2 linked regions of the Homo sapiens genome follow. The protein of the gene in region 1 interacts with the protein of each later gene in a biochemical or structural test. Each region holds a gene or a part of one and is shown on either strand. Other genes may lie near its edges.

Region 1 (3,500 bases):
AGAAGTTGTCTAATTATCAAGTGTTTTTTATTATCCTGAGTCATTTGGAACTGGAACAAATATCTCATAATTTTTATTATTTTAAGATGGATTTTTCTCTTACTTCAATATCAATATTGTTGAAAGGTTCAACTTCTTTTGATGTTCGTATTTCATTTCCTTTTGGGCCATGAATATAGTAGTGATAAATATGCCTAAAATAGAGAAGAATAATTTTATACTTTTAATTCACATAAAATTATAGTTAATGTAATCTTCTATCAAAATATTTTAACACTATTTACTAGGTATCAAGCACTTTATTAAGCATTTTAAAATACATATTCCATTTAATGGTAAAAACAATTGAGATGCAGGTATTACTGCATCTCATTTTACAGATATAGAACCTGGGGTGCAAGAAGTGTATGTAAGTTATCTGACATCACAGAATAGAGTTAGGGAGCCGTGGGCTTCAACCCAGACCTTTCCAACTTCAAAGACCACATACACCACTTCCAAGAGGAATAATTCATCAAATAAATATAAACTAGACAGCAAGAGTCTATAATTCTACTTACCAGGTACGTTCCAGAAAGGACTCAATTATCGGTGGTAAACTGGATTAGGTATCTAATCTCAATAAGAGAATACCATTCCAGAACAGCAGTCCCCAACCTTTTTGGCACCAAAACCAGTTTCATGGAAGACAATTTTTCCAGAGATGGGAGTTGAAGGGGGGTGATTTGGGATGAAAATGTTCCACCTCAGATCGACAAGCACTAGAGTCTCATAAGGAGCACGCAATATCTCACATGCACAGTTCACATTAGGGTTCGTGCTCCTATGAGAAATCTAGTGCTGCCAGTGATCTGACAGGAGGCGGAGCCAGGTGGTAATGCTCACTCGGGCCCACCACTCACTGTGGGGCCGGGTTCCTAAAAGGCCACAGATGGGTACCAGTTCACGACCGGGGCGTTGGGGACCCCTGTTCTAGAACATTCATCTCTCCTCTCCTATAGCACTGAGACAATCTTACCCTAAGATTCCAAAAACAAAACTAGTAAGTTTGACACCATCTCACTGAAAACCAACATTTTGGAAATAACACCTCTTTATTTTTTCAGAAAAGGTTAAAAAAGATTATATTTTGGTAACATTGTTCAGGATTATAAAATACCACGTCTTTATTCGTGAAATAGAAATTTGCAATATTTCTTCATAATCCTTCATTAGAGCAAGAGTATATTTAAATTATGTGTTAATGTACACTGAGTTCCTTCAATAAACTATAAAATAGCTAATAAAATATGTACTTGAAGAAAACTGCAAAGTCCTACTTAAATACCTTGGGTAACAGGGATAATAAACAACTTCAACAAGAAAAAAGGTATTCCTAAAACCAAATTTATTTTCCCATAAAAAAATTTTAAAATTCTCTTAGCGTATAATTACGTATAAAATTGAGACTCTCAAGAACAATAGCCTTTTGGGTAAATGTAAAAAGATACATTTTTAAAATATGAATTTTGAGCAGATGTACCCATTTTGCAAGTCTCAGTAATTCATACTAATGCAAATTAGGGAAACAATACAGTAAATCGTATGTATCACATAGCTATAAAAAAAAAATTTTAGGCCGGGCGCGATGGCTCACGCCTGTAATCCCAGTACTTTGGGAGGCTGAGGTGGGTGGATCACCTGAGGTCAGGAGTTCAAGACCAGCCTGGCCAACACGGCAAAAACCTGTCTCTACTAAAAATACAAAAATTAGTTGAGTGTGGTGGCACGCGCCTGTAATCCCAGCTACTCGGGAGGCTGAGGCAGGAGAATCACTTGAACCCAGGAGGTGGTGGTTGCAGTGAGCCAAGAGTGCGCCATTGCACTCCAGCCTGGGCAACAAGAGTGAAACTCCGTCTCAAAAAAAAAAAAAAAAATTTTTTTTTAGAGCCATTAAATAACTATTCCTCTGATTTGGTCTAATGGAATATAGAGTCCCTACAAGTGTTACTGGAATAAAAACACAATGATTATTTTCAGTACTAATGTCATATAGGCACATATGTACGTATATTTTTTATTTTAATAGGCTTGATGCATTCATTCACTTGATAAACATTTGAGCATCTACCATGTAGCAAGTATTCTTCTAGAAGACATTGGAGATACAGCAGTGAATTTAACAACAAAAATAAATATATATGGTATGGAAGATTACGACAGGTCCTATGGAAAAGAAGCACAAAACGGGGTCATGGAAGTGATATAGTGCTCAATCTGACAAACTGTGAAGTTCTTTTTTAATTTTATAATATTGTCAAAATCCTGTGCCTCAAATAATGCTCAGTACACTAGAGGTGATCTATAAATATTTACAGAATAAATGAATAGAGAGCTGTTTTAACACCAATATCAGAGTACTGGATAATACTAAAGGGAAGAAAATGAGACAGGAGCAAAACGGATACCAAAGAGGCTTCAATATATCTGTAATGTTTTCTGCCTTAAAAAAGTTAAGTAGCAACATTTCCTAAGCCAAATATAATTACTTACGCTAACTGTCGTGTCCAAAGGTGGAAATAATTTTTCAAGTACTGTATGTGTTCTGGTTGTACCCCTGTGATAACCACAGCAGTAAAGCTATCTTTTTCCTTCTCCTCTATGATAAGATGATGTAGAAATCTTTCATCATCATTTGTAATGTGAACAGAATCAGAGGGCTACAAGAGTGAACAGAAATACAACAGATTAAATCATCTAAATTATAATTATACAAATAGCTATTGCATCAAATTTTAATGTGATTTACTTGGAGTTTCACAAATAGGTTTCAGAAAAGCTTTGGAGGAAACTGGCCCAATACAACAAACTGGCTGAGTATGTGACAACACTGTGAAGACAAGGGAACTTTCACACAGACTGCTAAACTAGCATGCATAAAGAGCACCCTATCTTATAATGCTAAACCGATTTTAGAATCATAAACGAAAAGGTAAAGACAAATACTGAGTTTTAAAATGCCTTAAAAAATTGAGGACACTTACCCCTAGGGTAGAATGAACGCTTGCTTGGGAGACCTACCACTTAACTTGGTCAGGACCAATGCCCAGCCCTCCATGTTCAAGAAAACTACAGGGCAGGCTGGACCCAGCTAGCTAAGCCCAAACACATAGTGCTTAAAAGTAAAATCATCCTGGACACCAACCCACTTTCAGAGAATATCTAAAACTTATGGAAGGGAGTTAGTAGGGGAATTTGAGGATAAAATTACAAACTTCTCCATCTGTAGTATGAATCTATGTTTTAAAAAATTGCAGGCCGGGCGTGGTAGCTCACTCCCGTAATCCCAGCACTTTGGGAGGTTGAGGCGGGCAGATCACCTGAGGTCAGGAGTTTAAGATCAGCCTGGCCAACAAGCCGAAACCCCATCTCTACTTAAAATACAAAAGTAGCCAGGCGTGGTGGTACACGCCTATAAACCCAGCTACTAGGGAGGCTGAGGCAGGAGAATCGCTTGAGCC
Region 2 (3,500 bases), on another chromosome or scaffold:
ACATCTACACATAAAATTATAAATTGAACACGAGCATTAGTTATTTAATCAACTATTGCTAAGCAACACTAGAGCCACAGAAACACTTAACTGAGTTTAAGTAGGTCAGAAATGTAGAAATTCAGAAAAGTTAAGAATAAATGCCATGCCAGAAGCCATCTGTGTCAGTGACAATGTTAGTTCATATACTGTGGACTGGGGAAAAAATATTAGATGAAATATTTACATTTGCAATACATTTTTTGTTATTGTCTTAACTATATAGTAAACTATTTTTTAAATTTAGATAATCAACAATTATTAATAGCAAAGTTCAGAAAATGCTGAACAGAGGTACGTGTATTTTTAGTATGTGTGCACAATCTCAAAGAGACAGACACATAAACATATAAAATTAATACATTTTTGTTAGAAACAGTGGGGAGTGAAGGAGAGGATAGAAACACACATTATCATCCCAATTGTCCTGGCTGAGTTTAAATTTGGAACTCTATTCCCAGTACCAGAGAAAAACACCTAGAATATAAAGAGATAATCAGTAATTCAGAGAATCTTGTTTCATCATTTTTAAGGAAAATAATTAAGTTCATAAAGAAAATAATGAAAAACTCATGTTCAATTACCTTTTCTAACTTTTTGGCTTCAATATGTCGAAGTACTTGTTCTCTCCAGTCACGAGGAACTTTACTTTTTCCTGGAGGATCTAATAAAGAATGCTCAGAACCAACCCTTGCATTTGGTCTTTTTGAAGGACTAGTCCGTGAATAATTGAAATCACTAACTGACATAGTTCTCTCTGGTATTTCATTAATAGAGGGTCGAGCACTCTGAGGTCTTGATGCATTTGGACCATCTATGCTGTATGTTCGTGCAGAAAGGGGTCTCTGTGATCCTGGCATCATTGGAGGAGTTCTTCCCGCTGAGTGGAACTCTCTGTATGATAAATAATCTCCTTCAGGAATCTGAGCCCGCCTTGTAGAGCCTGGATCACCAAGATTTACAGAGGCTGTGGAGGACACACTACTTTGTCGCTGGATTGTACTTCGAGTTACTGCAGGAATAAGTCGGTCGTTTGGTGAGATGGCCCACATTTCCCCATGTCTTGCTGGGCCAAGTCTCTGATGTAAATGGTATGCAGTATTAGCTCGAACATTGTTATGATTAGAGAAATTCATATTGGCAGAATGTTTAGCATAACTTTGATTTTCTGTGCTCTCTGATCTAGGAAGGAGCTGAGGAGGAAAACTGGCATGGTCTATTTGGGGATTTTGTTTGGAGTGCCACAAAGTGTCTTTGACTGCAGCACTGCTACTGTATTGGATATTATACTGTGGAGGACCATATATTTGAGGTGCAGATTGTGGGCCACTTGTGGGGCCTCTTATTATATTTGGCTCTTCGGGATTATGATTTGAATCAAACTTGAAAATTGCCTTTGTTCCTGATATTAAATCAGAAGATGAGGAAGAACCAGTAAATACCTGCAATGGTTGATCATACAACAGTGTGGCAGACTTGCTCCTGACTATATTTTTTCCATCAACAGCAGATGTGATTTTAACGGTTGTACTTGGCTGCTGAGGTCCATTATCACTAAGAATATCATAGATTTTTAGCCCTCCAATCTCCATATTAGTTATGCTATGAGATTTCACAACAGATCCAACTGGACCACTTTTCTGAGGGGAGAGATCTTCAGTGCTTTTGGAAATACCTAAGTCAACAGAACAATCACTGTCATGTGGTTCAGTCCTATTAGGAGACTGGGAAGTTTCCTCAGAATGTCCATTTACCTTATTTACGGATTCCAAATTAGGATACTTGTTTCCATTTTCCAAGTGCTCAGTTTCCTCTTTAGAATTAATGCTTAAAAAGCTTGTTCCAAGCACAATATCCTGTGTTTTTGATCTTTCCATGATCTCTGGTTGAAATGTATCATTAGTTATAAGTTTATTAAGATTCATATTGATATGATCTAATTTGTGAGTGTCATCAGCTGTGGCTGTTGAGTCAACACTTTTCTCAATTAGAACTAATCGCTCTTCAACATTCAAATCATATTCAGGTAAGTTAAAATCTTTTTTATCATGAGCTTTGAACTTTTCCTCTGTTGAACTGTTTAAAATATCTCCATTTTGTAAAAGGCTGTTAAAATTTTCATCTTCTTGCCTAAAATAAAGATAATTTTATGAAAAACATAATAAAGCCGAGTTTTCTTAGTAACAGGGAACATTAATAAATAAATTGTGTAGGTAGACAAGTTAAAAAAGTTAATAAAAGTCAAAGACAAAAGGCATTTATTATCAAGCATGTAATTTTAAAATATTATCTTAATAGTTAAAAGAGCTTTATATTCAGTTGGAGACAAGTAATACAATTAAAATTCATAGATAATACCAAGATTAATTTTCATCAATACACTCAATCTGATTTGTCACAAAATAATTTAAAGGGCTGAACTATGAATAAAATTTTAATGTTTGCTGCATCTTTTCATGAATGTGCTAAAAAAACAAAATGCTTGAGGGAGGGCAGATATATGGAGAGAAACCTAGTAACATGAATAGTGGAGTAAAGAGCAAAGGACATTTTTACAGTTAATTTTGAAGCCTTACATTATTAACCAAATTAACCATAGTTAACGAAGTACACAGTTGTTATTACATTCAAATATATAGGTAAGAAAATTGTACAAAGCAAAGAACTGAATAATTGTCCAAAGTTTAACATCAAATATGTAAAAGGCATAGAAAGATAAATGAAGTCTAATCACTCTTCTAAGTAGCTAGCTGTATTTGGTAAATACTTTTAAATGTGTCATTCCAAAATTATACAAAATATTTTATTTCTACCTGTGATATTAAGTATTTGTGTCCTCTTGTATACATATTCAAGTTATGTTTCCACAAAAATTCCCTAATACTGGTCTTCCCATTACAAAAAAGATAACTTTCATTACTAGAAATACAGCACAAAAAGGTGTTGCTGTATTCCTTGCTTAGGCTTTATTTCATTATATTAAAAGCAGGATTTAGAAAATATCATACCGCTTTCCCAACAATAAATAAAATTTTATTATTCAACAAATTAATACGATAATATCTAGGAGGTTATAAAAATTAGTATTTTAAACAGCAGCTCATAGCTTCAAATTCAAAGAATAGAAATAAATGATTGATTGTGATTATAATTACACAGTACCTAAACTCATTTTCAGGCATAAAATTCACCTCCCTTTTCCAACAACACGCATTAATATATACAAATTTTACTTAAATATGCCTGAAATTTAAGAACAACTCTAAATGACTATTAAAAATATCCACACATTAAACTTTTGGTTTAGTAGTAACCCCGATCTTTTTTTTTTTTTTTTTGAGACCGGGTCTCAATTCTGTTACCCATGCTGGAGTGCAGTAGCCTGATCATGACTCACTGAGGCCTAAACCTCGCAAGCTCAAGTTAACCTCCCACCTTGGCCTCTCGAGTAGCTGGGACTA

What was found. The genes of interacting proteins can lie anywhere in the genome.
Region 2: the proteins of SMCHD1 (region 1) and ERBIN interact in a test that uses a peptide from one of them, tested with the Homo sapiens proteins (one large-scale study listed by IntAct).

Annotation. Positions count from the first base shown.
Region 1 is NC_000018.10:2,693,726-2,697,225, reverse strand, and holds part of SMCHD1 (structural maintenance of chromosomes flexible hinge domain-containing protein 1), read right to left. Parts: intron 2,700-3,500; coding exon 2,533-2,699; intron 195-2,532; coding exon 104-194; intron 1-103. UniProt on the Homo sapiens protein: Non-canonical member of the structural maintenance of chromosomes (SMC) protein family that plays a key role in epigenetic silencing by regulating chromatin architecture.
Region 2 is NC_000005.10:66,052,075-66,055,574, reverse strand, and holds part of ERBIN (erbin), read right to left. Parts: intron 2,170-3,500; coding exon 624-2,169; intron 517-623; coding exon of another isoform or gene 409-516; exon of another isoform or gene 1-408. UniProt on the Homo sapiens protein: Acts as an adapter for the receptor ERBB2, in epithelia. By binding the unphosphorylated 'Tyr-1248' of receptor ERBB2, it may contribute to stabilize this unphosphorylated state.